2 separate regions of the Homo sapiens genome follow, and region 1 is linked to region 2. Evidence: fine-mapped expression QTL. A gene starts in region 2. The other region holds a variant in brackets. All regions are shown on one strand. Distances are between the middles of the regions.

Region 1 (5,238 bases), 34 kb before region 2:
GAATGGTGAAGAACGGATGGGGGAAGGCTTCACAATCTAACACTGAAGATGGGGCTTGATGAATGAATATGTAAGAGCCAAGAGTTGTGCAAGGAACAGTGGATGGGGAGAAAACCACAGACAGCCTGGAGAAGCAGGTTGGGGCCAGTTGCACAAGGCCCTGCATAACCTGTTTACCATACAATTTATTGTTTGACCAGTGTTTGCTAATCTCACTGTTCTAGCATATCAGGCGTGTCAGAGAATTATGAGGAGTCAAAGTATTTTGTTACTAATAATAGCTGAAATGTGGGTACTTAACTTTTTTTTGAGATGGAGTTTTGCTCTTGTTGCCCAAGCTGGAGTGCAATGGAGCGATCTCAGCTCACTGCAGCCTCTGCCTCTGGGGTTCAAGCGATTCTCCTGCCTCAGCCTCCCATGTAGCTGGGATTATGGGTGTGTGCCACCATACCTGGCTGGTTTTTTGTATTTTTAGTAGAGACGGGGTTTCACTATGTTGGCCAGGCTGGTCTCGAACTCCTGACCTCAGGTGATCCACCCGCCTCAGCCTCCCAAAGTGCTGGGATTACAGGCGTGAGCCACCATGCCTGGCCAGGTACTTGACATTTTAAAAATAAATCAGGACACACTCCCAAATGATGTTGAACAAAAGAATACATAATCTATGACTCCATTTATAAAAGAAAGAGAAAACCAGGCAAAGATTGTCTCTGTTGTCTCAGTTCATGACACAGTTACCTTCAGGGGTGGACAGTGACAGGGAGAGGATTCAAGAGGGACTTCTGGGTGCCTCATGCTATTTCTTGATCTGGGGACTGGCTCCACAGGTGTGCTGTTTCTGAAAATTCAACAAGCTGTATACTTATAGTGCACTTTTCTGTATCTCTTCTGCTTTAAAATAAGTCAGGTGCACAGCACCATGTGCTCACTTGTATTTCCATATTCTTTTACTGGAAGGGGTGAGGTTACAGACTCCTCTTGTGTTGTACTCTGGGAATTCACTGTGCAGACATGCATCAATAGTTTTGTGTTCCTTTAAGAAGTAACTCTGGGAATAGCGCTTAGATGCTCAGAAAGGCCAAGGATAGTGATCACACCAGCCAAGGGTCACCTTTAGCAAGAGCAGGGCTTAGTGAGTGTGTGATGAATTGACTTACACTCGAGTTAGTTATAAATGTAGAGATTCTGAAACACCAACTTCGCATATCTGTAAGATTGCTTTTCCCTCATTTTACATGTAATGAGGGGCTGACAGTTCCTTGCTAACCTTATAGAGAAACACAAGTCAAAACCACATCTGCATAAGCATGAGTTATAATGCATTCAACATTTATGTACCCTTAGGAACAAGAGTCGATTTTTTTTTCCCAGTTATTTCCATCAAAAAACAGCCATGTGTCACATGACAGGGACATGTTCTGAGAAATGAGCTGTAAGGCAATTTTGTTGTCATGTCATGTATGTCACAGAGTATACTCAACAAACCTAGATGGCATAGCCTACTACACACCTAGGCTATATGGTATAGCCCATTGCTCCTAGGCTACAAACCTGTACACAGCATGTTACTGTACTGAATACTGTAGGCAACTGTAACACAATAGTAAGTATGCGTGTATCTAAACATGCCTAAACATAGGACAGTCACAGTAAAAATAACGGCTTGATAGTCTTATGGGACCACTGTACTATGTGGTCTGTTATTGAAACATCCTAATGCAGTGCTGCATGTATCCCACTAAAAATAGTACAAAAAGATGAGACTTTGTCTTCCACATCAGACCTGTCTCCCAAGGCAACCACTATTATGACTTTCTTATGTAGTCTTACATACATATTTTATACATGCACAAAAGCATATATATGAATGTGTATTACTCCCGCCCTGCTTCTTTCCCTAAATAATTGCAAGCCCCATGTATTTACTTGTTTTTTACTGGAGATGTTTCACATCCACAAACGTGCATAGAACGCATCTACCATTCCACTGACTATACAAATTCTGACTTACTTTACCAGGTATTTCTAGTAAAACTCTAAAACCTTAACATTTTTTACAAACTATGTGGCATCCTTGAATACACATTCTTTGACGTGCTTTTTCAATTACGGTAGAAACTGCCTTAACGCATAGCCTCACCGACAGCATGTTAAAACGCAAACCTTTTGACCTTTGCATTGCTATTTGGCTAACACTGGTACTTCGCTGTTATTTTAATCGGCAACCTTCTATTTAGCTCCACTGATTTTTCCATGTCTACCTGAATTAAGTACTAAACTGTTTCGAATACCATAGCCTTAATATATATTTTAATGTGCGGTAGGTTTAGTCTTTGTTCTGTTTCTCTGCAAAGAGATCATTAAAAAAAAATGTACAGGCAATATTTTAGACTGCCTTAATGCCAGACTTCGCAGCACAATATAGCTATTGCTCCTATTACACAAACATATTACAATGGAATTTACGGCTTCCCCTCAAGAATATGGAACATAATTATTCATGTCACAATTTTAAATAGGAAAATTAGTGATTAAATTTTTTTTTAGAAAGAATCATGTTCATACAGTAGGCCAGGTATAATCACTTCTCAAAGAAACGGCTAAGATTTTACATTTGTAATATATCGCTTTCTGTGTAAATACCCCAGAAGGAAATAGTAACTGTATTTGGTTAGTGACTCTCCTGGATTCAAGTCCATCAAGGACACATGAAAGTGGCCATATCTGGGATTAGGGTCTTTGCAGCTGTCATCAAGTTGAGATCATACTGGATGAGGGTAGGTCCTAGTCCAATGACCGATGTCCTTGTAGGAGGGAAACTGGACACAGACACAGGAAAATGCCATGTGAGGCAGGAACTGGAGTGACGCCACTACAAGACAAGGGACACCATGGCTGGCTGGCTGCCACCAGAAGCCAGAAAGGGGCAGGGTGGGATTCTTCTCCAGACCCTGAGGGCATTGCCCTGCTGAAGCCTGAGTTTGGATTCTGGCCTCCAAAACTATGAGGATAATTCCAGGTGTCTGAAGCTGCGGCACACGTGGCAAGTTGTTACGGCAGCCCTAGCTGAGGAACGCAATCACCACC[C/T]CCGATTTTGTGTCACTTAGAACTGCCATAAATCTCCAGTGGTATATAGCTATAATGAGTGACTTGTCACTTGATGTCTCTTTTTCAGTCACTAGGTTGCTTCCAATAAGGCAAAAAGTAAGAACTTGTCTAGAAAACCCAGCCGGGCACAGTGGCTCATGCCTGTAATCCCAGCACTTCGGGAGGGCGGACAGGCGGATCACTTGAGGTCAGGAGTTTGAGACCAGCCTGGCAACATGGTGAAACCCCCGTCTCTACTAAAAATACAAAAATTAGCTGGGCGTGGTGGCGGGCACCTGTAATTCCAGCTACTCGGGAGACTGAGGCAGGAGAATTGCTTGAACCCAGGAGGTGGAGGTTGCAGTGAGTCGAGTCACGCCACTGCACTCCGGCCTGAGCGACAGAATGAGATTCTGTCTCAAAAAAAAAAAAAAAAAAGAAAACCCTTTTATGGTGATGATTTTATACTATTACCTCATTGAGACATAATTTATATTAAGGAAAAACAATACCTGGAAAATAAAATGTCAATGTTTTACAAAGTGTTCATAGTTTTATTACTTATCACCTCTATGTATTTTAACAACTTCAAAAGTGCAGTTGGATTATATGGGAAAAGATTTTTCTTTTGCAAACGGCAGATGGCATCTTGTAGTTCCTGGAAGCATTTTACTATTCTGTAAAATATTCCCACTTCAGAGACGACATCATTTGGGGCTACTTCACAATCAAAGGAGAAGGCAGTATCAAATTCTTTCAGAACCAGAGGCCTTGATGGAGGCTCAAGGCTAAATTCTTTTTTATCCCTGCTTGTCCCAGCTGCATCCTGAATCTCCTTAGTTGCTTGCTGGTGTAAAGATGTCTGTTTACTGTTAGCTAAACACTGCTCTGTGGATTCCACGTCAGAATCGTCAGAGCTGTCGTAATCTACCAGACTTTGAGAGGCCCGGGGGGAAGACAGACTAGAAGCACACATGGTGTGAGCCCCCTTGGACATCACAGCTTTCAGTGGTTCAGAGGGAGCATCGGAAGCCCAGGAGTGCCGAGCACACACATCTCTGTGACTATGAGGAGCAGTCAAACGATGGGGTATTGTTTGGTTGGAGCTTTGGTCTTGGACAAGTGAGGGGACACAGCCACAAATACTTATGTCATATTTAGATTCAGTTGCATCAAAGTTATTGCAAATGGTGAAAAAATTATCCCAGTCCTTTTGCAGTAATTTTAAATATCTAACAAAATATTCAAGAAAACAGGTTTCTGATGAAATCAAAAAGTCAAGAAGAACTGTGGAATCAAATCCTATATTTTTCAAGAAGAACAAGAAAATACAGTGAGGATTATAGCCATTTTCATGTGTGTGATGGTCCCACATTTCTTTTCCCTGAGTCAAGCTTTCAGTGGCTTCACATCCTCTGAAAATGAAGATAATGGAGAATGCAGATTAATGACCTTACAAAAATAAACAGTTTTACCAGATATAATTCACATACCATAAATTAACCTATTAGATTACTTTTAAATCTATGCATCACTTCTTAAAAGAAAAAATTTCAAAACCCATTCCCTTCCCCATAAGCTCTAAAGAAATCTGACTCAGTAAAGCAAAATCCACTGACTTTGGCAGTTCTAGTTTTTGTCTGCCCAATAAAAGTTACCTGTTGTTCTTTCTCTCGACATCAGAACTCCTCATTCTTATAGGTAACCAATTCCATGTGGTAAGATAATTCCTAAACCTCCTTCCTTACCCTCAACAAGGGTGGGCATGTGACCCAGATTGACCAATCAGAGCACTCCATGCTCCTGGCCACAATGACTGGTTCTGACAAGGCTCTGTGACCCAAGTGGGTTAATCAGGTCTCCCCTGGGACTTTTGCTGGAGCTATGGAAGATTATAACTGTAAGGCTGAGGTACGCCTTGAACTGCCGGTGGCCATGCCTTGAGAATGAATTCAAAACTGTGAGACAGAGAAAAATTGAGAAGTGATTGATGACATGATTGATTATAGTCCCTGTACATATAGTTATACCTGACTCCAACTTGACCCTTTAGAATTCCCAGTTATGAGCCAATAAATGCTGGCTTTTGCTCAAATTAGAGTTGGTTTCTATCATTTACAACCAAAAAAATCTTAACAAATACAACTACAT
Region 2 (5,500 bases):
TTTAACTCAAAGGCAGGATTTTTAATGAAAAACAAATGGCCAGAAATACAAAGAACTAGGAATTAGGAGACAACTCTGTTTCTAGGCTCTTCACCAACAAGTTCTTAGGCCCCCATCTCTCTACTTAACTATCATTTAGCAAATACACCATATGAATTGCATGGGTGCCGAGTCTGCTATAAGAATGAATATGTTCTCCACAACAATTTACATATTTATTCATTTCTCTCTCCCTCTTTTTCCTTCTTTTTGGGAGTTCAAAACTTCTTGACTCTATAATTAGTAAATGTTATAAAACTGAACTTGTACATTATATTTGAACTGTTAAAAAGCAAAATTTGAGGCTGGGTGCAGTGGCTCACACCTGTAATCCCAGCACTCTGGGAGGCCGAGGCGGGTGGATCACCTGAGGTCAGAGGTTCGAGACCAGCCTGGCCAACGTGGTAAAACCCCATCTCCACTAAAAATACAAAAATTAGCTGGGTGTGGTGGAGTGTGTCTGTAGTCCCAGGTACTCAGGAGGCTGGGACAGGAGAACTGCTTGAACCTGGGAGGCGGAGGTTGCAGTGAGCCAAGCTCGCACCACTGTACTCCAGCCTGGGCGACAGAGGGAGACTCCATCTCAAAAACAAAAACAAACAAAATTTGAACAAATTTAAAGATGTAAATGGCTTTTATTAGCAATTTATGAATCTGGCAGCATCTCAACTAAAAATTTAGAAACGGTGTTCTGATTAGCTGAGCAGAGGTGGGCTGAAAACGGTTGAAGAAGCAAAAAGAGAATAAAAGACAGATTGGTCATTTCAAAGTTAAACTTTCCTCACAGAGACCAAATGGAGGAGAGACTTCTTTATCATGCTGGCTCAGGTAAATCAGGCCTCCTTGACTCCTTGCTGTGTATCTTCTGGATTTTTTGACAACTGGCCCATTTCTAAGTTGTTTGATTATGTGACACCTAGCACCAGCAACTCCATTCTGATTTGGCCTGGTCTGTTGGGCCTAGTGCAGGGGTTTAATCTAAAACAATGGCTTCCTATACATTTCATTTAACAATACTAATAAAATACCGCTTTTATTTTATTTGTTTACATTGGAGTCCTGCTGTTAAGCAAAAAAAAAAAAAAAAAAAACAGGGAGAAATCATGGTAGAATCGAAAGACCGAAAGCTACTAAAAATTGATAGCATTTAATAGTCCTGAATAAGTTGTTTCTAATTATAATTCAGCTACTAATTTCAAGAAGAAATGGAAATTTAGAAAGTTGAAATTATGAAATATGATTGCTGGGAAGTATAATGGGACAAAAATTAAAAAGCTGAATCTATCTTCACTGCCACTACTGCACTTCTACTCTGGACAACTGCAACCGATCCCTTCCAAAGTGGTTGTATCCAGGCCCACCCTACACCCACTTCCTTCTGAAAAACCAATCCACTTTCCTTAGGATACAGTCCAAACTCCTAAACAAGGCTTACCAAGGCCCTTCAAGATCTGACTCTCGGCGTCTTCTCATCTCTATGCCCCACTCCCCAGTCTCATTACCAGTCATTTTCCTACCACTCTGCTTCAGCTACCCTAGCCTTCTTTCTGGCAGTTCCTGTAAACAGCAAAGCATATTCTAGCATCAGAGGCTTTGCATTTCTAATTCTCTCTGCTGGCAAAATTCTCTCCCTAGATCTTGGCATGGCTGGCTCTTTGTCATTCAGATCCCTGCTCAAATGTCACTTCCTCAGAGACCTTTCCTATCTGTCTTAGTCCGTTTCCTGTTGCTTATAAAATAATTCCTAAAACTCGGTAATTTATAAAGAAAAGTAATTTATTGTCTAGTTTTGGAGGCTGGGAAGTCTAAGACTGACGGACCACGAGACAGCACCGCAAAGTATCACGTGGCCAGGGGGCTGAGCAGGCTCACGAGTTGTCAAGTCTCTCCTTAAAAAGCCACCAGTTCTACCTCCGTGATAACCCATTAATCCATGAATAGATCAATCCACTCGTGAAGACAGAACCCTCACGGTCCAACCACCTCTTAAAGACTCTACCTCTCAGTACTGCCACATTGGGGATTAAATTTCAACATGAGTTTTGAAGGGGACAGATATTCACACCATAGCACTACCTATCTAATACAGCCCATCACGTCCTGGTCAAAATCGATTCCACCATTCTGCTTGATTTTCCTCATATAACCCATCCCTATCTGATAATTTTGTGTTTGTTTCCCCGAAATCACTATCTTGTTCACTGTTGTCTCCCCAGGGACTAGAACAGTGGCCAGTAAACACTTGCTAATGAATAAAGTGCTTAACAAACGTGTCTTGATCAGTCTATCTCGCGTTTTCCCCACGACCCCTCTCCATTCATTCACAGGAACCCGCCAACGTTGCTATCCTTTCAGGAAGGTCCTTGGATCGTCATCGCTATCCCAAAGAGAGTCCGTTCTCCCACTTCAGGCGAGGCATTGCCAGCCTGGAAGCTAACGGGGTCTCAAGGACCGACAGCCGCGCCAAGACCGGGCACTTGCGTCTGACAAGCGCTGAACAGGGGCGGAGAAACAAGGCACCCCTCTACTCGCTTCCTGGAGCCTGCCGCCCTCCCAACCTTAAGCCCTGAACCAGGCTCTCATTTGGCCGCACTCGTGCCTCCCCTGCTGCCAGCACGGCGGCCGGTCCCGGTTACCTGCCTGGGATCTGGCTCAGGCGAACTCTCTTCACACCGCCATTTGAGGGAACACAAATGCCCGCTCTGGGCCACCGTAGTTCACAGAAAGTACAAGCTGGCACCTCCTCCCGCATGCGCAGAGACCGCCTTCGGCGAATAGTGTCTCTTAGCAACGGCTTTGAGTCCCTCCGCCAGGGGCGGAGCCTCGGAAGCCACCACGGGGAAGCTGTAAGGGGAAGTGAGTGAGACCAATCGGAGACGAATCTCTGCCCCGTTCGGCACGCCTCCCTTAACTGTCGCGAATGCAAAGGCAACTTTACGGCAGGCAGAGGGTGGGGGCTGCCGGGGGTAAGGAGGAGAGAAGGAAGCAACCAACCAACCAAGTCGTCCCTACTCCCTCCACCCCCACCCATCCCGGACCTGGTTTACGGCTCCAGGCTCAGGCTCCACTGCGGGCGCTGATTGGTTGTTGAAGGCTTGGTCCCATCCCAGTGACCCCAAAGTGCTGAAGGGAGGGGGCGGGGGTGGCCCAGTGCAAAGTGCATCCCGAAAGCCCCCTGTCCGGAGACCCCACGGCTGGCACTTCGGGCCCCGTATGACCTGGGACCTCGCCGTCCCGAGACCTCCTGGGTCCCTCCGTAGCTGGAAGCCTCCGGCCCGGAGCGCGGCAGCCCCCTGCTCCGAGCCCTGGACCGGGACTGCCCCCCCACCCGAGCCAGGACTTCCTCCCTGCCTCCCTGCACCTCTGCCCCAAGGCTGCCCGGCGGCCGGGATCGCCACCTCCTGCCTTCTCGGCTGTTCGGATGTTCGCCGGGCTGGGGCCGTGAGGCACCGAGGAGGATCAGGAACACCAGGGTCCGGCCCTGCCTGGGGTATTTCTTCAATGGAGAAGTTGGTGAGTGTAGAGGAGGCTGAAAGGAGGAAGAGAAGCAGCAGCTGAGGAGACAGGTAAAGTCCTTTACTTCCCCCGAGGGGAAGAGTGCTGGCTGGGAGGGTAGGAGGGAGGAAAATCTCTGCTTTTTCTTGCCTGCCCTTGCCACTCTCCAGCCCCTTTCCTGAGCTCCCCCCTCCCCACCTCTGAGACACTACACCACTCACTGGTTTCTGTTTTTCTAGGTTTGAGCTGGCTGAAGAAGACGCGAAAGCAGGAAGAGGTCTGCCCACCTATCAGAGAAGCAGAAGGCACAGTGCCTCTGACCAGCATCGTCTGTAAAGGTAATGAGCCAGCCCTCCCCTCCCCCGTTGTTTATTCCTGGCCCCTACCTCATTAAGCAGTGGTTTATTTTCAGGGTGGTTGCCTGGGAATGCAACCTTTCCTACCCCCCCCACCCCCACCCCCAGTTTCCCAGGAAAAACAAAAACATTACCCGTGCCTGATACTTAACATTTTATAACTTCTCTACCCAGGACAGTATTTTCCCACTTTCTTTCTGTACAGTGTGTTTCTGTGTTTTTCATTATCTTTTGGTACACTGTGCCATTTACTCTGCTCTGAGGCTTTGAGACCTTTTTGTAGCTACCCTCCCTTCCTTACTCTCATAGGAATTCCTCAATTCCTTGTTAATTGCTTGTTAATTCTGAATGACTTTCCTTTTTAATTAAACCACAATTTACTGTTTTCCCCCTTACTCTTTCCTATCACCTTTCTTCTACCTGCATCAGAAAAATCTTTTGAGTTATCTAACTGACAACGATTTGGTAGAGAAAGGTAAATTATTGGCCTGAGATTTATGAGTTTCAGAAAATAGTTTGATTTTATTTCCTACTAGAAAGCCAACCTGTGTACCTTAAGAGTGTGAATGGTATGAAGACAACATTATTACCCTGAAGCACTTAGGCATAATTAACTCTTTGGGCTTTCTGTGTGTTTGTGTGTGACAAATGTGGATGGGCTTTGAAACTTATAAAGATACAATGTTTCTTACACCTCAGATTTTCTAGGAGAACTTTTAAAAATTTGCACAATATCTTATTAATCGTTTGACTCAGGAATTTAAAAACAAAGGAACCTTTTGGTGTGTTTACATATCTGGGTCTTAATTTTAGCACTCTATAAAAAAGATTTCTCATTTTAAAACTTTTACGTAGAGTTTGCTGGATTGAAATTTAAGCATCTAATTCATGTGATCACATTTCTGCTGCCATATTTTGTTGCTGCTTCTGAAAATGCTCTGAAAGTAAACTTAGGACATTAGTGTAATTCCTAAAGGGGGGATATAAGCATGGAAATTATACAAGGTTTAATTCCAAAATTAGCCAAATGGATGACTTTTTTAACATCCAGTAGCAAAAGTATAAAGTGACTTGTTAATCTGAGTTATTTTAATATCCCAAATTGTTTAGGGAATTTTTGTTACAAGGAAGTGCTTAAAATAGCAGAAGTTAATATTTTTGATTTCCTATGTTCCACTGGACTTTCTGCCCTCCACAAAAAGAAATTAGTATCTTTACTGATTCTGTTAATTCTTAAGACATAGCTAAAGAGATAAAGACATAGCTTTTAAGGGGATCTGAGGTATGCATATTCTTGAGACATGGAACTGCATGCCAAAAGAAGAGATTCTAGGGAATAGGATTTAGAATCAGTATCTACCAATGACTGTTCCCTGTTGAAAACTTAGGGCAGCTTTTGTATGTATATGTAGGGAATCAGGAGTACTAGACTACATCATTTCAGTAAAAGCTACCCGGAAATCTTTAAAGGCTAATTTTTATTATGTAAGTATGGAAGTTGTCAGGGAGATGGCCTAATGATTACTTCAGAACTTTTAAAAAATGCTAAAATATTTGAAGTATGTTCTAAAGATCAAAATGAAGTACTGTGTTTTGTATTCAAGCCTCTC

What was found. PIP is the estimated chance that this variant, and not a neighbour inherited with it, causes the effect.
Region 1: its variant is fine-mapped to the expression of LINS1 in whole blood (TOPMed, PIP above 0.99).

Annotation. Positions count from the first base shown.
Region 1 is chr15:100,565,616-100,570,853 of GRCh38, forward strand. It overlaps LINS1 (lines homolog 1), which reads right to left. Exons shown (of 7, transcript NM_001040616.3): 7 at 1,309-4,502. The coding sequence ends at 3,623. Among named protein-coding and RNA genes, the nearest start is that of LINS1, 34 kb to the right of the region's middle. The variant C/T (reference allele first, on the strand shown) is at 3,088.
Region 2 is chr15:100,599,442-100,604,941 of GRCh38, forward strand. LINS1 (lines homolog 1) reads right to left here and starts at 2,743. Exons shown (of 7, transcript NM_001040616.3): 1 at 2,680-2,743. It overlaps ASB7 (ankyrin repeat and SOCS box containing 7), which reads left to right and starts at 3,148. Exons shown (of 6, transcript NM_198243.3): 1 at 3,148-3,605; 2 at 3,774-3,872. RefSeq lists an enhancer at 2,661-3,000 and silencers at 3,171-3,430, 3,881-3,930.